Regions from separate parts of the Homo sapiens genome. Here region 1 is linked to region 2. Evidence: fine-mapped expression QTL. A gene starts in region 2. The other region holds a variant in brackets. All regions are shown on one strand. Distances are between the middles of the regions. Region 1 holds the start of VPS39 (VPS39 subunit of HOPS complex). Region 2 holds the start of TMEM87A (transmembrane protein 87A).

Evidence for each region. PIP is the estimated chance that this variant, and not a neighbour inherited with it, causes the effect.
Region 1: its variant is fine-mapped to the expression of TMEM87A in whole blood (INTERVAL, PIP above 0.99). The same link has a PIP of 0.9 or more in T cells, blood mononuclear cells and monocytes.

The regions. Positions count from the first base shown.
Region 1 is chr15:42,207,308-42,217,434 of GRCh38, reverse strand. It overlaps VPS39 (VPS39 subunit of HOPS complex), which reads left to right and starts at 9,131. Exons shown (of 25, transcript NM_015289.5): 1 at 9,131-9,354. The coding sequence starts at 9,282. TMEM87A (transmembrane protein 87A) reads left to right here. Exons shown (of 20, transcript NM_015497.5): 20 at 5,686-6,988. The coding sequence ends at 5,727. VPS39-DT (VPS39 divergent transcript) reads right to left here and starts at 9,034. Exons shown (of 3, transcript XR_932181.3): 1 at 8,751-9,034; 2 at 8,518-8,671. The variant G/A (reference allele first, on the strand shown) is at 5,955.
Region 2 is chr15:42,267,177-42,277,167 of GRCh38, reverse strand. TMEM87A (transmembrane protein 87A) reads left to right here and starts at 3,735. Exons shown (of 20, transcript NM_015497.5): 1 at 3,735-3,913; 2 at 5,045-5,105; 3 at 9,136-9,221. The coding sequence starts at 3,770. It overlaps GANC (glucosidase alpha, neutral C), which reads right to left and starts at 3,967. Exons shown (of 24, transcript NM_198141.3): 1 at 2,658-3,967; 2 at 758-820. The coding sequence starts at 2,686. RefSeq lists enhancers at 2,574-3,773, 3,746-3,975, 4,136-4,385.

The DNA of each region.
Region 1 (10,127 bases), 60 kb after region 2:
TATAGTAGACCAAAACAAAATCTAAATTGTTACCTACTATTTAATAATATTTTTGTCACTACCTTCTTCAGATAGTAAGGATTATAATTAGTACCTCTAATATTTATGTTTTTAATCTTTTAGTTTGCCTCCATACAGTTAATCTAGAAGGCTTCACATGAAGTCTTATGTTAGGATTGTGGGCCAGGTATAGTGGCTCATGCCTGTAATCCCAGCACTTTGGGAGGCCTAGGCAGGAGGATCAGTTGAGGTCAGGAGCTTGAGACCAGCCTGGGCAACGTGGTGAAACCCCATCTCTACAAAACATACAAAAATTAGCCGGAGATGGTGGCATACACCTGTAGTCTCAGCTACTTGGGAGGTGAAGTGGGAGGATCACTTGAGCCCTGGAGGCAGAGGTTGCAGTGAGCTGAGATTACGCCACTCCAGCCTGGGCAAAAGAGTGAGACCCCATCTCAAAAAAAAAAAAAAAAGAAAAGAAAAAGAATTGTGGCCTGAGTTCATGGAAACTAGTTCTGGATATGTTCTGAATATTAGGTCATTTTAGAGTTTTTGTTTGTTTGTTTTTGTTTTGTTTTTTTTCAGGAAGCCTTTTGGAAGCATTTTGTCTGATTCTGATTCATTGTGTTGAATTGGCTGCTAAAAATGTTTTGTTCATTTCCCACTGACATGATCTTTGACACAGCATGTACAGTATCAAATTCCTTAGCTGTTCTATGTGTTGAAATAATTGAGAACTCTACCATTCAGATTTGAACCTATCTACATAACACTTTGCTTTCTGTGGTATATTCTGCTGTTCCCACATCTCCCTCTTGAGGTCTTCCTCTGCTAATTATTTGCCTTTAAGGCTTCCCTTGTACTTCAGCTCTCCATGAGCTGCTATAAGCAGAGAAGGCTGATTAATTGAAACCTGATTGTGCCCTTCATGGGAATGCAAGTTTGCTATAGTAATTTGGTGGCACTGAGTTCAGCCATCTGTTCATATTTTCCTCTGTGAAAACACTGTGCAAGATTTTCCAGGTATACATAAGGCTTTTTTGTGGTAAGAAAACATAACAATGAGATCTACTCTCTTAACTCCTTTAGTGTACGTTACAGTATTATTACGTATAAGCACAATGTTGTACAGCAGATCTCTAGAACATTTTCATCTCATTTAAATGAAATTTTATACCTGTTGAATAGCAACTCTTGCTTTCCCCCTCCCTCAGCGCCTGGCATCCATCATTCTATTTCTGCCTTTGAGTTCTATTTTAGATAACTCATATAAGTGGAATCATGCAGCATTTGTCCCCCTGTGGCTTGCTTATTTCACTTAGCATAATGTCTTCAAGATTTATCTAAGTTGTAGCACATGTCAGAATTTCCTTCCTTTTTAAGGTTGACAAGTGTTCCATTGTATATATGTAACATGTTATCTTCATCCATTTATCTGTCAGTGGACACGGGTTATTTCCATACCTTGGCTGTTGTGAATAATGTTGCAGTGAACATGGGAGTGCACATTTCTCTTTGAGATCCTGCTTCATTTCTTTTAGGTATATATGCAGAAGTGGGATTACTGGATTATATGGTAGTTATTTTTTAATTTTTTTGAGGAGCTTTCATACTGTTTTCCATAGTGATTGCACCATTTTACATTTCCACCAGCAATGCACAGGGGTTCCAATTTCTTTCTTTGCCCACATTTGTTATTTTTTGTTTTTTGATAATGACCATCCTAACAGGTGTGACGTGACACCTTGTGGTTTTGGTTTGTATTTCTCTGATGATTAGTGATGATGAGCATTTTTTTTATATACCTGTCAGCCATTTGGAAGCCCTCTTTTGAGAAATGTCTCTTCCAGTCCCTGGCCCAGTTTTTAATCAAGTTAGTTGATTTTTTGCTGTTGAATTGTAGGGGTTTCTTATATATTTTGGATATTAACCCTGATCAGATACAGTCCTATGCCACATTTCAGTCAGCAACGGACCACATATATGACAGTGGTCCCATAAGAACCTCCGGGTTCACGCCATTCTCCTGCCTCAGCCTCCCAAGTAGCTGGGACTACAGGCGCCCGCCACCACGCCCGGCAAATTTTTTGCATTTTTTTAGTAGAGACGGGGTTTCACCGTGTTAGCCAGGATGGTCTCGGTCTCCTGACCTTGTGATCCACCCACCTCAGCCTCCCAAAATGCTGGGATTACAGGCGTGAGCCACCGCACCTGGCCAATACTGAATTTTTACTGTACCTTTTCAATGTTTAGATAACTTTAGATACCCAAATACTTACCATTGTATTCCAGTTGCCTTTGGTATTCAGTACAGTAACATGCTGTACAGGTTTTTAGCCTAGAGCAATAGGCTTATACATATAGCCGAGGTATGTAGTAGGCTATATAACATCTAGATTTGTGTAAGTATATTCTGTGAAGTTCACACAGCTATGAAATTGCCTAATGATGCAGTTCTCAGAATGTATCCCTATCATTAAGTATACGTGACTGTATGTAGTATGCAAATATTTTCTCCAATTCTGTAGGTTGCTTTTCATTCTGTTGTGTGCTTCCCTTGCTGTGCAGAAGCTTTTTAGTTTGATGTAGTCCCATTGGTCTGTTTTGCTCTTGTTTTGTGCTTTTGGTGTCTTAGACAAGAAATCACTGCTAAGACCAATTTCAAGAAACTTAGGTTGTCTTCTAGGAGTTTTGTGGTTTCAAATCTTATGTCTAATTCTTTAATCTATTTTGACTTGTCTAAGTCTTTAATCTATTTTGAGTTGATTTTTGTGTATAGTGAAGATGAGTTACTTTCATTCTTTCTCATGTGAATATCTAGTTTTTCCAGCACCATTTGTTGAGGAAACTGTCAGTTTCCCCACTGTGTAGTGTTGTCTCTCTTTTCGAAGATCAGTTGACCATGTATGTGTAGTTTTATTTCTGGGCTTTCTATTTTGTTCCACTTGGTCATAGTATGTGATTCTTTCAACGTGCCGTTAAATTCTGTTTTCCATTGTTTCATTGAAGATTTTTGCGTCTGCTCATCAGGGATATTGGCCTGTCGTTTCTCTTCTTGTCATGTCTTTGGCTTTGGCATTAGGGTAATGCTGGCCTCATAGAATAAGTTTGGAAGTTCCTTCCAAATAAATGTTTTCGTCTTTAATTTTTTTGAAAGCGTTTAAGAAGGATTAGTGTTACTTTGTCTTTAAGTACCTGGTAGGACTCAACTAAAGAAGCCATCTGGTCCTGGGCTGTTTTTTTGTTGGGATGTTTTTGATTACTGATGGAATCTTGTTGTAGGTCTTACCAGGTTGTGTGTTCCCCCCCCGGATTTTCTATTCCTTGATGATTCAGTCTTGGTAGATTGTATACTTCTAGGAATTATATATTTTGTTCTAGGTTATCCAGTTTCTTGGCATATTTTTAAAAATGTTTTGTATATTTTTATTGAAATTCTTACTTTGTTCATGCATTGTTCTCCTGAGTTCGTTGAACATCTTCATGATAGTTGTTTTGCATTCTCTTTCAAATAATTCCTATACCTCTGTTTCACTGGGGTTGGTTTCCAGAGATTTATCTTCTTCCTTTGTTTGGGCCATGTTTCACTGATTCTCTATTTTCCTTAATTCTTTGTGTTGGTTTCATTGCATTAGAAAAAAAAACAGTTACCTTTCCAGTGTTCATGGACTGGCATTGTACAGGAGAACACCCTCATCAATCATTCTGATAGCCTCTCTAACCCACTCTGTATTATGTCTTTTCTGGACTTCTGCATATGTATTCCCAATCAGAGGGATTTGCTGGGTTTTTCCCTCCCCAGGAATTTATAATCTCTTGCTCCCTTTTGTGTTTATCTGCTGTATCATGGGTCTCCTGGAGCCAGTGGCATAGCCCAGCTCTTTTTTTGTTCATACTGGCCCCAGGCACCTAAAATATACTGGTCCCATCTGTGCTTCAAACCATTCCCTACAGAAACCATTCCCTCAGGTAACCTCTTACAAAGTTGGAACATTTTCACAGTCCATCTCTCCTCCCTAGGGAAAAGCTAGGATTTGGGGATGTTGGGGATTCTACCTGCTTACTCTGCACTGAGCTGGGGGAGCGGCTGTAGTGAGCTCATGCTTGCTAGTCCAAACTTCCACTTTGATTTCAGCAACTTCCAACCTGGGCCCTTTGTTTTTAGCTCTCGGACTCAGGCAAGACAGAAAACAGTCTCTCGTGCAGGTTCCAGAAAAGTCAGAATGTTGGATGTACATTCCAGTCATTTCCTTCCCTCTGCAAAAAGAAGCTGGGAGCTGAGGGTTTCCTCTCTATCATGTGGTACTGTGCTGGGTCCATGGGAAGGGAAGAATTATGGCAAGAGGGTGCCTCAGGTTTTTCTGCCGACTTTGATTCAGCTGGTTTCATGCTTTCCTATAGTGCAGAAGACCCTCAACTGGTTTCTGGATTTCCCACAAAGGGAATTTTTCCATGTGTTATTGAATCAGTGTGTCTGTAGAGGGAAGGAGTGTCCAGGGCTTCCTATTCTGTCATCTTGCTGACATCACTTTCTCCAAGGCCTTTTTTTCCCTTAAAACTGAAAAAGACCTTAAATGAATTACAGGAGAAACAATTTACATGATGGACCAGGAATCAAAATGGCATAAGGCTCTTCAACAACATCTTTGGGAGCCAGAACAAAGCCTTTGAATTCTGAGGAAAATCATTTTCAACCTAGAATTCTGTACTCAACTAAACTATCATTATGAGGGTAAAATAAAGATGTTTCTAGTCACACAAGAAGTAAAATAATTGATGTTCTATATGCAGTTTCTGAAGAAAGTAGGGGAAAATGTTCTCCACAAAAATGAGGAAGCTAGGAAAAAGACTTGGGATCTAGGAAATAAAGGGTCCAACACAGAGACAAGAAAAATTCCCAGTATGATGTAAGAAATTCTCAGGTTGGCAGCTGGGCACCAGGCTTGGATGGAGTGGAGAACAGAGAGCATCGGAAAGGATATTTTTAAGAAAAAGGGAAACATCTATAGATTATCTGATGTGATTGATTATATTCAAAAAGGATTTGTAGTTCTGTCAGTTTGTGATACAATAGTGAGAGGTACTTCGCAAATGAAGCAAAAGAAAAATGAAAATTAACTCTAAGGTATAAAATTGCCTAAGAAGGGAAATTTAAGGGTAGTACATTAATTATTTTAATTGAAATGGGATACTGTAAATACTATATTAAATTAAATGTAATTTTATTTTTTACATGATTTTTAAAAAGTGTAGTAAAAAACACATAACAAATCAACCCTCCTAACCATTCTAAAGTGCAAAGTGCTAACTAGGTGCACGTCTTTGCCCTCATCCTTCACTGGGTCTTCAAGTGAAATTCCTGAATTAGAGGAGTTACACATTTTTATTAAAGCCTAATCTTATGTAAATATTTGTTTACATAAGATCTTAGCTGACTCTATACATTTCCTTCTGAGTGCTGATTTTCTGTCCAGAAGCCTAGAGCTTTTGATTTAGTTGTTCTTGGGTGAGGTCTGGACATCTGTATGTTCAAAATCTTCACAAATGTTTAGGAACCATTTCTCTAAACATTTAATTAACATAAAGTACTCGTGGAAGATGTTTGCTTGGATAGTCTGTATAGAAGATATTTGGAATATAGATCATTTTAACCTAATATACTTCAACCTTTTTTTTTTTCCCTAGGAACGAATGATCACACACTTTGAAAGGTCCAAAATGGAGTAAGGAATGGGAAGATTTGCAGTTAAAGATGGCTACCATCAGGGAAGAGATCAGCATCTGTGTCAGTCTTCTGTACGGCTCCATGGGATTAAAGGAAGCAATGACATCCTGATCTGTTCCTTGATCTTTGGGCATTGGAGTTGGCGAGAGGTGTCAGAACAAAGAGAACATCTTACTGAAAACAAGTTCATAAGATGAGAAAAATCTACGAGCTTCTTATTTACAACACT[G/A]CTGCCCCCTTTCCTCCCAGACTCTGACATGGATGTTCATGCAACTTAAGTGTGTTGTTCCTGAACTTTCTGTAATGTTTCATTTTTTAAATCTGACAAACTAAAAAGTTTAACGTCTTCTAAAAGATTGTCATCAACACCATAATATGTAATCTCCAGGAGCAACTGCCTGTAATTTTTATTTATTTAGGGAGTTACATAGGTGATGGGGGAAATTGTTAACTACCTTTCATTTTCCTGGGAAGTCAAGGTTACATCTTGCAGAGGTTGTTTTGAGAAAAAAGGGCCCTTCTGAGTTAAGGAGCCATAGTTCTATCAATGATCAAAAGAAAAAAAAAAAAAGAGAAACTGTTACAGTATGATTCAGATCATTTAAAAAAGCAAAATCAAGTGCAATTTTGTTTACAAATGGTGTATATTAAAGATTTTTCTATTTCAGATGTACTTTAAAGAGAAATATTAGCTTAACTCTTTTGACATCTGCTATTGTGACACATCCCATTGCTGGCAATGTGGTGCACACTCCGAAACTTTTAACTACTGTTTTGTAAGCCTCCAAGGGTGGCATTGCAGGGTCCTTAGGCAATGTTTTGTTTGCCTTTATGCAGAGAGGTGCTCCAAGTGCTGTGATTGAGCACCGTGCTAGAGGAACTGTAATGCTTCAGAAGTTGTAGCTTATACAAAGGAAACAGGTCCTGCTGGCTTAATTTAAACAGTTATTGCATGAAGTAGCGTGGAGGCCCTGGACTGCTGCTCGTTCTTTAGGATGGACTGTTCTGGTATCTGGTATTGGTTTAGAGACTGTTAATAAGGGACATCACAAGGTGATGGGATTCATTTGAAGCACTCTATTTCTGTTTTAATGGTTTTATCCAATTTTGCCTTCCCAAGATTTTTGTTCTACATAAAAAGTTCATGCCACTTTTTAATATAAAAAAATTTAACAAAATTAATGTATTTTTCTCATTTTTTTCAAACTTTTTCTAAAGACTCTTTCTGTCAAACTCATGAAAAATTTCTTTCTATGGCTTTTATTCTAGATTGTCTTATTTTCTGTTAAAACCAATGACCACATGACCACAATCTTCACTAACTCATACTGCAGTGAAAGTGTTAACCCTTAGGTAGTTTCTCTACAACTCTTTGCTATGGTGATTTTTAAAAAAGTTTCCTAGGAAGTATCTCTGAGGAACAGCAATCTGAAGAACTGACTATATTCTCATGCTAAGTCATTAGCCAAAAGCTGGTGGTATTGTTGCATGCTGCTATTGCATATTAAAACGTAGCAGATGAATAATAGTTGTAATGCAGCAGGATAGTTGGTCAAATTATTTTTTTAGGCTGCTTTGATGTTGACTTGAGACTAGGAAAAAAAAAAGCCCATTGTGTTAAGCGGGAGTGTATAGTTCAAGTTCTATAGCCTGGGCCCTGATAATTCTACTTACAGCTTTCTGTATTACTGGGAATAGATATAGTGTGTCATTTCTTAGGTTCAGAAGAAATTGATAGCTTTGCAGTAATCTGTAAAACAATATAAACCTTAGGGTTTTGGGCCTGAACGAAAAGGTACTAGACCTTCCAGCACAACAGCTGGTAATTCTAAATTTTTAAGAAGGTGATCAGCTTCTATGGTGAAAATCAGCTATAACACAGGATTTGTGTAGCAATTTTCATGTTTTTGACTACTTGAAAGTACTTTTCACTTGATTATCAGAACAGCATTTGGTAAAGATGGGACAAGTATTCCTAATTTACATATGAAGAAACTGATATTGTGTAAAAATAAAATGACCAGGACCAGTTTTTTTGACTTCATATCACAGACTTACCCTTTTTCTTTTACATTTTTGCTTTAAACCCAAATGCTTAATTTTTTGACCTACGATGTTTTCCTAGGGGGAAATGACCAGATATAGATCATTCTTGCAGCCCAAACTTTGTTGTTTTTTAAGTCTTCAAGGGGAATACTAAGGTAACCGCAGACAGTACAGGTCCCAGGTCCTATAGGAGGAAAAGCCATGACACCTTCCTAAAGGAATATTAGGATGTAAGACACAGCTTTGGAAAGTTGAATTGGTAGGAATGTGGTCATCAAATTAAAAGGAGGCTTATTTCACTGACTTCCAAGAGTTAGTGAATCATCTCTTGCCTAAACTCTTGCTACTCAAAATGTGATCCAGGGACCAGCAACATCTGGGAGATTTTTGGTGCTCAACTGAGGGTCTTACTCTGGTCCTACTGAATCAAAAGAGGCATTTTAACAATGTCTCTAGGTGATTTGTATGCACGTTAAATTTGAAAAGCATTGGCCTCAAATGGTGGTTCTCAGGGTAATTTTGCCTCCCAGAGGACATACGGAAAAGAGACATTTTTATACCTCTGTGGGGAAGATAACTGGCATTTGGTGGGTGGAAGTTAGGGATGCTGTTAAACATCTTACATTGTACAGAACATGCCCCCTCCCCCAACAAGAAATTATCCTGTCCTAAATGCCGGTAGTGCTATCGCTGAACAACCCTAACCTAAAATGGTGGTTCTCAAGCTTTTAAGTGCATGGACTCACCTTGGGGTTTATTAAAACATAGGTTGCTGTTCCCTTCGAGTTTCAGATTCAGTAGAACTGGAATGGGCCTGAAACTTTGCATTTCTAACAAGTTCACAGGTGCTGCTGCTACTGCTGTTGTTGCTGGTCTAGAACCACTTTCAGAACCACTGGCCTAGAACAACCATGAAAGCATTAAGGTAAGGTGCTTGTACTAATTGGGATATAATGGTAATACTAAAGCTACCACTTACTGAGAGCTTAGTGGGTGTCAGGTGTTGCTAAGCGCTCACGACACTAGGTCACAGGTATTTACAAAAATTTTGCAGATTAGGAAAGTATGGCATCGAAATATTAAATTTTCTAAATCACAGCTAATTTCCTAATTGGTAGATCTCCGTCTGAGGTCGACGCCAAAGGCCGAGTTTTTAACCATCACGCCCACTGCCTAAAGCAGTTCTAAGATTAAGAGTTTGTTCCTTCTATGGTAAGCCCATGGCTACTCGGGATGGAGTAGCTATGGGTCCAGAGTGACGATGGCAACTCAGCAACAAAACAATTCATTTAGAGTGCACCGGGAGGAAGGGGCGGGACTTCGGCTGCGGAAGAGGCGGGCCTAACTAGCAGGAAGTCCGGGGTTGACGATGGCTGTGTTGTTGAAGGGCCTGTAGCCGGGGGGTTCCTGGCCGGATCCCGGTCTACCCTTAGCCCAGACTCGTTCCGGACCCCAGCCCGGCCCGGAACACTCTGGGCGAGACGGCGGTGGCAACTCTCCCCTTGCCGCCATGCACGACGCTTTCGAGCCAGTGCCGATCCTAGAAAAGCTGCCTCTGCAAATCGACTGTCTGGCTGCCTGGGGTGAGCCGAGGGGCCGCGGGGCCGAGGCGGAGTCAGCACAGGAGCGGTCCGGATCTTTTCTGAGGCCGGGGAAGTGGACAGGCGTCCATCCGTGTGGGCTTCGGTTGGATGCTACACGAGAGGGGCTTAGGATGAGAGAAGGCAGAGAGATGACCACCGGCTATAGACATCGATGTCTGTGGGGCTACTTGGGTGATCCCAGTGATCCAGTCATTTAGGGGAGTTCCCCTTGCTTTTGCTCTCTGTGCAGAGTGGGAGGATGAGCTTTCCTTTTTAGTTGTGCTCAGCTTTGGCCCATTTTGATTCCCACGAAGACTTCATTTTAGAGGGTCAAAGCAGTAAGAAGTTCTCAGCCTGCCAGGGGCTTGAAGTTGTCCAGATGTTTGTGTTGTTTTCTAGATGAAAGTCAACCCTGGTTTTGGGGGCATTGAACAAGTTAACACCATATGCTTTTTTTTCCCCTTAGTGATCATTCGTTCATTTCTCATTCCTGTAGGGAACTCATGTAGTTAGCTAACCTTTGAATCTAGCCAAGCGGTTGATTACCTTATATCCAAAGTGTCCAAGTTACCTAACTGTAGGCGGAAGAGTTTCCAGACTGTCTTGAAACCTAACCCATAAAAACTAGCATAGTCCTTTTGGGATTGACTAGTGCAGAAGGCCGGGACAGACATCTCTTGTGTGCTCTGAAATACAAATGAAGGTTTCAGGGATAACGGTGAACATTGTGCTCTTATCCGTGAGTGACTGGTTTGATACCAGCCGCCAAAGAC
Region 2 (9,991 bases):
AAATGCATTTACTCTTTGACCCAGTAATCTCACTCCTAGAAAGGTATCCTATAAATACACCTGCATGTGTAGAAAATGACCTATGTATAGCTCTTCATTGTGGTAGTGCTATTTTAGCAAAAGATTAAAAACAACCCAAGGGTCTAGCAATAAGAGACAGACTGAATAAATTATATTAATAGTATATCTACCCCATGGAATATTATGCAGCTGTAAAAAGGAGAAACAATCTCCATGCACTCATATGAATTTCTCCTCAGAACAAACTATAAAGCAGGAAAAAAAACCTATTTGGTATAAAAAGGGGTGATTAAAAAAAGAGAAAAGCAATAATATAAAAATACATGTATTTACAAAAAAATACTGGAAGGATAAATAAGAAATGAAGAAATTCGGTTATTCGGGACAAGATGAGGAATGGGTAGAAGGGGACAGGAGTGGAAGCAACATTTTTCAATGTATAGCTCTTTATATTATTTTTGAACCATGTAAAAGTGTTATCTATTCAAAGCGTCAAAATTTAAAACTAGTTTAAAAATATTTTGGCTTTTAAAATAAAATAGCTGTTTATTGAAAAATTTAAATACTTCAGGAGTAAATGTATAAAGTTAAAAGTGAGTCTCCTGTCTGATGATTTCCTTAATTATTAAATTATCCTTTCCTTGGAAAGTCTATCAGTTCCAAAAATTTAATAAGCATCAATTTTGAAATACTGTCAGAGATGTTTTGATCTAGCTACTATATTTATTTTCCTTACCTGTAAAATGCGATCTTGTTACAGTCTCTGAAAATGTTTTTATCTACAGCTTCATCTTCAAGACTAAATAAAAAGACATTTTGAGAAATTTATTTCACACAGGGCTTGTGAATCCAACTTTTGTACCTTCTCTAACGACAGTATGAACATGCAAAATAAACCTTTGGAGTCTATTCTGCAATGCAAAATTGTGTCACGGCCACAGTATAACATAATAGCACATTATGTTGCAGAACAATAGCCTTTTGTAAACCCTCTGAGGTAAACAACAAAACATCAGGTTCTGGGATTACTCCAAAAGTAATGGGAAAAGATCACTGTCACTTATGAGGACATATTCTTTTGAAATAATGACTGAAGGCTATGACCACAAAAGTAAAATCTGAAGGAGGAAAACCAAAACAGCATCCCAAAACGAACAAACCAAAACCAACCAACCAGACAAACTAAGAACCATAACCCACCCACCGATTTATTCAAGAAAATATTTTCAGAATATTCTTCCTGAGAGCTGGGCTCTGAGGAAGATATGAACTGTGTTCAAGCTATCAGTTAGGGTTTTACCAGCAATCACAATACAAGCTGACAAATGCTTTAATAGAGGTGCAAGGTGCTAGAATAAGAACAGAACAGACGTAGAAGGGGAATTTCTTGCTTTTTAAGATGAGGTGACAAACTAGGGGCCATGTTTTTTAAAACCAAGTTTCCAGAAGAGCTGTTTCTGGGATAAAACATGAATGAGATATATGTATATTGAAGTTTGAGTATATGTATTTAAACTAGCCTCCATCTGATTAAAACAACTACAGATTATAAGGAGAAAAAAAAATTACACCGGCTTTCATGCACTAGTGTGGCCGAATGCATCTGTAGTCAGCATGTCCATGATTATGTAGAAAGCTATGACTGAACACAAACGTCGAAATATTATGAAAACAAGCCCAGGCAGATATACTTGGCCATACTAAAAAACTGTTTGTCCTTCACTGAACTCAGTCTTTGTCCGTTTATTTTAATTTATTAAAAAAATTTTTTTTGAGACAGGATCTCGCTCTGCCTCCTACGTTGGAGTGAAGTGGCACGATCTTGGCTTGCTGCAACTGCCGCCTCCTGGGCTCAGGCTATCTTCCTGCCTCAGCCTCCTGAGTAGCTGGGACTACAGGCCCACATCACCACGTCTGGCTAACTTTAAAATTTTTGTAGAGACAGGGATTCAGCATGTTGCCCAGGCTGGTCTGAACTCCTGGGTTCAAGCAATCTGCCCACCTATAGGCCTCCCAAAGTGCTGGGATTACAGGCATGAGCGAACCGGCCCAGTTTATTTTAATCAAGTGTACAAAGATTGGAGAATCTTTTGTTTCCTCTTTACAGCTTCGAAGAATTAACTCTGGGATGATATAGGAAGGGGTGATTATAGATGAATTTGGAAAGCAACATGCCTGAAATTCACGTGTTAAGAGTTCTGATTGCAACTTTTCCACTGTTAATGTTATTTAACCATCCTTTTTTTTTGGAGACAGGGTCTCACTTTGTTGCCCAAGCAGTGGCAAGATCACAGCTCCACTGCAGCCTCCAAATCCATCCTCCCAGTGGTCTCCCAAGTAGCTGGGACTCCGAGGGGGCGGGGAGGGGGTCTCGAACTCCTGAACTCAAGCGATCCTCCCACCTTAGCCTCCCAAAGTGCTGTGGGATTACCTGCGTGAGCCACTGCACCCGGCCTATTTAACCATCCTGAAAGTATTTTATGAGAGGCTATTAATATCAACTAACTTCCCGCGAATTGAGAGAAAAGATAAAGGTCAGCAAATACCAAATACGCAAATAAGAAATGCAATTAAAACACTATTCCCTGTTTCTAGGGACCCTGGGGTCACTCGCTACAGAAGCACTTGGCCTTTACCTTATTTCCTCTTTCACTGCTGCTTCCATGGCTTCTCTGTCACTCCGACCAGCTCCCAGCTCTCAGGACAAGGGCCCTGGGCGATCTTTTAAAAAAGCCGATTGGGTGTCTTTCTAAAATTACAACCAGTACTTCATCGTCAAGTTTCTGGGAAGGGAGTCCCCTCCAGATTCTCATGGAGTGACAAATCTTGACTCTTGCTCCTGGAATTTTTCAGGCCCAAACTAGCGTTTCTACAATGATTTATTTGGCAAATTTGTCTTGATTATGGGTGGCTGATGAGGAACGTGCTTTTGTTAGGAACCGAAACTGGGCGGCGGTGAGGGCGTGTACGCAATGAGTCCTAGAGGGTAAAAATCAAGAGCGTTAAGAACCTGGAAATGCCGAGACGGCCTCCCTGACTGGGACGAAGCATCTGCAGATCTATCTCAGTGGCGGGGTCACGCCACAGATTTTGAAAACTGACCCTCTCTGTCTCCGTTTTCGGTTAAGGGTGGGAAGTGCCGGCCGGGTCTTTGCTGGAGGCTAGGTCTCCAGCCAGATTGTACTGCAGCATCGTACTCTTCAGGGCTAGAAGGGGCCTTTGAAGGTTGTTACACTACCCAGTCTAGGAATCGCGTGTACTCCACCACCGCCGAATTCCAGCCTTTGCTTAAATACCACCCAAACCGGAGAACTCACTACTAGACGCCACTTGGGCAGCCAGGCTTAGGGCTTTTCCAGACTTTCTGGCCCCAAAGTCTGACATTGACTTAGAAGGGATGAAGGGCTGGGGCGAGCGGAAGTAGAGAGCCAAATCCTGCACGGGGTGCCTGCCTGGTCCTAAAACCTTTAACGGCTGGGAGACAGAAAAGACTCAGGCCAGGCTGGCATGTAGCGATCTCTCTAACCCAGCTGACCAGGTTCCAACAGGATGACGCCTGCGCAGTAGGTCCAAAGTCTCACGGCGCACAGACGACTGTCTGAGAGAGGGGCCGCTACGCCGCACAGCAAACAAGCTCCGCGACGTTTCCAGGACCCGGATAATCCCGCCCTTAGAGCAGAGCCGGAAGAAGGCGGGACGAACCGGAAGAGGGTGAAATGCTTTCGGTAGGCACTCCACGGCTGTGAAGATGGCGGCGGCTGCGTGGCTTCAGGTGTTGCCTGTCATTCTTCTGCTTCTGGGAGCTCACCCGTCACCACTGTCGTTTTTCAGTGCGGGACCGGCAACCGTAGCTGCTGCCGACCGGTCCAAATGGCACATTCCGATACCGTCGGTGAGTATTCACTTCACTAACGTCTGAACCTAGAGGAGCAAGGGGTGGGGCTACGGCGGCCCAAGGGGTCCATGAAGGTTCCGCAAAAGTCTCTTCAAAAGGGGTGGGGTTGCTGGGATGGTCTGTGTGGCTAGCCAACTGGGACCCACCTCCCTGGAGTGGAAAGCCGCGCACTTCTGTGATTAGGCTAGCGGGAATGTAAGGGCCACTTCAGCAACAGAAAGGAGTGGTGGAGCGGCTTCTCATCAGAAAAACAGAACTTTCAGTGCCTGACTTGAGATGTAAACTTGATGTACAAACGGAGAGTTGTTTATCTTTCAGATGTTTCACAGAATCCAGTGTCCCCGGGTTGGATAAGAAAGATATGTAAATAGGAGTCTTCATTTCTTTCTTTCTTTTTCTTCCTCTGCACTTCTTGGTCCCTGGGTAATTCTGCTTACGAGATGGTTCGACTTCGCTTCAACTTTGGAATGGCTATTCTAAGCTTTACTGTGTGACTAGAAAGCATAGAGATTTAAGAAATGTGTTTTAACATGGGAATGGTTAAAATTGAAGAAATAGTACTTAAAATTTAATGTGGTAAGGCTAGTCTTTCATTTGGATAATTAACTACATGGGTTGACCCTTTCTGCCCCTTACCCATTTTAAACCTTATTTCAGTAACAGGTATAGTCCTGTGAGCAGACAAAAACCAGATGCAGGGAGGAAATGCTGAAAAGCATTAGCCCCATTAAACCTACGTTGGCCTTTTTGTTTCATTCTGCTCTGCTCACTGACTGTAATGTCCAAATCTTATTTGGGCTTTTATTATGGTAAACGTTATACCTTTTGTTCAGTGGTGAAGATTTTCAGGTGTTCAGTTAGGTTTTTACTTGTTACTAAAATGGTTAATAGTTAAGTCTTTTTAGATTTGAAAATAAAACTCTGGTTATTTGCACACAGAATAGTTCATTAGAAAAAATGATTGGTTATTCTGAGCAGTGATTGGTGAGTAAAGGGAATGAACTGATTAAGGGGTACGTCCCATAAAGATTTAAGTTAAGTTGGAATTTCTAGCAGTCTTAGATAGTTATATGATGCTTTGGTAATTGAAGCCATCTGAGGCTAATTATCTTTCCTTTATGTTTGCAGGGGAAAAATTATTTTAGTTTTGGAAAGATCCTCTTCAGAAATACCACTATCTTCCTGAAGTGTGAGTTTTTGAATTTCATGAAGTTTTAATTTGAATTTTAAAAATTTATAGGTAATGTTTTAAATTACCTATTTTATAAGTTCTGAAATCTAATAGTCTGGCATTATCTAGGTATAAATATTTTTAGTATTACTAAGGTCCTTTTACTGAATCATCTTCAAAGTACTCGTGTGAACTTTATTTTCTTCTCTTGTTTTTCTGGTGTTTACATTGCATATATACACTATGTAGACATTATATATTAGTATATATAATGTATATATTAATATATATGCTGTATATACTACATTGAATATTCAGTCACATCTCAGTCGAATTACATTTACAGTTGATACTTTCTGAGAAAAGCATCCTTAGGTGATTTTGTCATTATGCAAACATCATAGAGTATACTTAAAACTGGATGGCACTACACGCCTAGTTTGTATGGTACAGCCTATTGCTCCTAGGCTATAAACCTGTATAACATGTTACTGTACTGAATGCTATAGGTGGTTGTAACACAATGGTAAGTTTTTGTATATCTAAACATAGGAAAGTAGAGTACAAATACGATATTACAATTTTATGGGACCCCCGTTGTATATGTAGTCTTTCATTTACTGAAATGTTATGTAGTGAATGACTGTGATTATGTTGGGGTTGATTCCCTGCATGGTGGTTTTAATCTGTTCTGTGTAGATTAAAGAGGTTTTACTCTTGTGTGCTTGTTAAATGTTTACTGCAAACATGACCTAGGTTTGTCAGGCCGTTGGCTGTGAAGGAATATATTTAGTAGATCCTTTATTTACAAAAGGAGTATTTTACTGCTTTGGAAGAGGAAGCTCAGATATTATCAAGAAATAGGGATTATGTAGAACAAAACTAGTTTGTCTAGTGGAAAAATGACTGTATCTGAATCTAAAGTATCCCATTGTGTGTTCAGTAAAAGCTTCCTTTTAGTTCTGAAACCGGCTTTAATTTAGAGAACGATTGATCGTGGGCAGCTTTATTTCTAGATGAGGGATAAAAATCCTGATGATAGATGTGTGATTCTATGCATACTGTCTTCACGGAAGTGCAAAATTTTAAGTCATAGTTGGATAATTTTATTCTTTTCAATTGTTTAGTGAGTAATTATTACTTATTGCATAGACTGTGGGGAAGTAATAGAAAAATGTTCTTCCCTCATCGAGCTTACATTCTAGTGGGAGTGAAAACAGCAGGTAGAATTTCTCTGAAGAATATATACTGTATCCATGAATATGTAATCAGTCTCCTGACCAGTGACTTATATTTGATTTAGATCAAATCTACTCTGACACTGGCCTTGTGAGATTGGTTTACTGGGTAACCTAGTAACCCTTGTCTTTTGGAATAGCTTGACAGCCTGTTTGCTGTTTTATTCTTTTATTAGGTCCAGTCTTTTTTTCTCGTGTAGTTTGATCTAGTGGTGTTTTGCCAAGTTAAACCAACTGCATTTTTTTTAAGATGGTGTCTCACTCTGTCACCCAGACTGGAGTGCAGTGGTACGATCTTGGCTTACTGCAACCTCCACCTCCCAGGTTCAAGCGATTCTCCTGCCTCAGCCTCCCGAGTAGCTGGGATTACAGGCATGAGTCTCTATGCCCAGCCCTAACTGCGTATTTTGAAGTGTTTATATTTCATTGTTTTTGGAGGATTTGAGGCACTTTATTTTTTGTTGTTGTTTTTTGAGACGGAGTTTTGCTGTGACGCCCAGGCTGGAATGCAGTGGCACGATCTCGGCTCACTGTAACCTCTGCTTCCTGGGTTCAAGCGATTCTTCTGCCTCAGCCTCCCGAGTAGCTGGGACTATAGGCGCGTGCCACCACGCCGGCTAATTTTTGTATTTTTAGCAGAGGTGGGGGTTTCACCATATTGGCCAGGCTGGTCTCGAACTCCCGACCTCAAGTTATCTGCCTGCCTTGGCCTCCCACAGTTCTGGGATTACAGGTGTGAGCCACCGTGCCCGGCCTGAGACACTTTAACATTATCTTTTTCTTTGTTATTTCTGTGCTTTCTCATATTTACCAGTTGTCTTTGATTTTGTACTTTTTGGGGGATGGTATATAGCTTTCCATGGAATAGCTGGGACCATTTTTTTTTTTTTTTTTTTTTTTGAGACGGAGTCTCGCTCTGTCGCCCAGGCCGGACTGCGGATTGCAGTGGCGCAATCTCGGCTCACTGCAAGCTCCGCTTCCCAGGTTCACGCCATTCTCCTGCCTCAGCCTCCCGAGTAGCTGGGACTACAGGCGCCCGCCACCGCGCCCGGCTAATTTTTTGTATTTTTAGTAGAGACGGGGTTTCACCTTGTTAGCCAGGATGGTCTCGATCTCCTGACCTCATGATCCACCCGCCTCGGCCTCCCAAAGTGCTGGGATTACAGGCGTGAGCCACCGCGCCCGACCTTATTGTCTCTTAAAGCCTTTCATTTAAAGTTCTAAATATTGTCTTGTAACATAAACAGCAGTATTTTTGCTGCCAAATTTCCTTACAAGTCTCCTGTTTGGGGGATGTGTTCTTACTGGCTTTTTATTAGTTAATCCTGTCCCTGTATGGATTATTTTGAATAGTTCATAGCCCAATTGCTTTTTATCATTTCCATAAATTCTATCCAACAGGTCAAATTTTTGAACATTCTAATAGAGTCCTTTGAAAATGTGTTGGTCATCTAAAAATTAGTTTGAGAAAACAGTTTAAAAGAAAAAAAAAGGAAGCTTATAATTAGGTTGCTTCTTTTGTTATGAATGAAAAGTAGATTCCTAAATGCAGTCATGTTTATTTTTGTCATGTTTATTATTACATTTATATAAAGTAGGGAGTCTTTAGTATATTTTTCCTTTCATAGCTAGAATCAAAGATAAAAGCGAATACTGACTTCCTCCAGCTAATCAGTCATATAGTCAGATTTACCCTCCCAAGTCTTCAGAATAATGTCTTGATCCATTAGAATACTGTGTTCCAAACTGTGTTTAATGAGCTTTATGAAGCTTCCATGATAACATGAGCTTCCTTGAGGCCTCTTTTAAGGTAGGCTTTGAAAAAAAAAATCTGATACTCTTATCTTTGCTTTTGCTATTTCTACCTTCCACAGCCATGTTTGCTTTTCGTTCATTGCTCTTTCTGTTCTATCTTGATATCTTTCAAGGTCTGAGATAGCAATTTTGCTCTCAGTGGAACTATTATGTATATCATCATTTAACACCATTTAACAGTTGTTAATATTGCCTTGTGACATGCATTCCTAATTTTATTATTGCTTGTCTCTTCAACTAGCCTTTTGAAGGGTCTTAATAATTTGTTTCCACTCGTTTCCCTCTTTAGCCTAACAGTGTGCCATTATACCTTTGTAATACTTGTGCTATTTATTTATTTATTTATTTATTTATGTTTTTTGAGACAGGGTCTCGCTCTGTCGCCCAGGCTGGAGTGCAGTGGTACCATCATGGCTCACTGCAGACTTGACCTCCTGGGCTCAAGTGATCCTCCTGCCTCCCTTGCCTGAGTAGCTGGGACTACAAGCATGTACCACCACGCCTAGCTTTTTAATCATTTTTTGTAGAGATGAGTTCTCACTATGTTGCCTAGGGTGGTCTTGAGCTCCTGGGCTCAAGCGATCCCCCTGCCTTGGCCTCCCAAACTTCTGGGGTTATAGGTGTGAGCTACCGCACCTAGCCTGCTCAATAAATACTTAAATAATAGAAGACTGGCTTGAATTTAGAGTGCTTTATCACTCCCAGGTTTTTCTCAATAGAGATCCAGAAGTTAGGACTTTATGGCATAAAAATAGATCCACAGTTTCCAGAGGTTAAAAACTGCTTACCTGCTATTTTTCTATGAACAACAATACTTTTATCTTAATATCCAGCTCTTTTTGCATGTATTATTTCAATACCTTATGTTTGGAGAAAGGATGGTCTTTGAGTATCTCAGTTTAGGGTACGAAATGAATAGGATATAGGTTAACAGCTTAGGAAAAATGCTTTGTTGGGGAATTATCTTTTGTTAACAAAGATTTCTTCTTTTGTAGTTGATGGAGAACCTTGTGACCTGTCTTTGAATATAACCTGGTATCTGAAAAGCGCTGATTGTTACAATGAAATCTATAACTTCAAGGTAAGGAACATAAAATTACAGAGTTTTTTTGGACCTTAGTGATTATCTGGTTCCAGTCTCTTAATTTCATAGAGGAAAGAGTATCATGTAGCTATGGAGGAGGAGAGCTGAAACTAGAATGCATGCTTCCCAATTTGCAGACCACCAATTCTCAAACTTTTTGGTTTCAGAACTCTTATATTTGTAAAAATTATTGTGGACTCCAGAAAGCCTTTGAGCATGTGGGTTATGCTATTAGAAATTACAACTGAGAAAATATAAAAATATTTATTAGTTTATTTTAAAGTAGCAATAATAAACTTATTGCATGTTAATATAAATAACTGTTTTTCCCAGAAAACCACACAGAAGAGTAGGATTGTTTTGTATTTTTGTAAATTTGTTTACTATCTGGCATAACAGAAGATCACTGTATTCTTATATTCCCTCCTTCACTCAGTCTGTTGCAATAATTTGGCTTAAGTACATGTAGAAAATAATGACCTCATACAGATATATAGTTGGGAAAAGGAATGGTATTTTAATGGCCTTTTCAGATAACTGAGGATATTCTTTTTTGATTCTATACCAAAACTCAACAAGTGGAAGTTTTTAAAGGTTAGTTGCAATGTGGAATCTGAAATATTAATGAACTTTTTTTGTACTCTGATAAGAAATCCACTGATATGAATGTATCTTTTACCTGTGTGTGATCTTGTAGCATCATTTATTGGTCATTTAGAAAATAGCAGTTGACTGAATTATATACATTTTTATAAATATTAACTCAT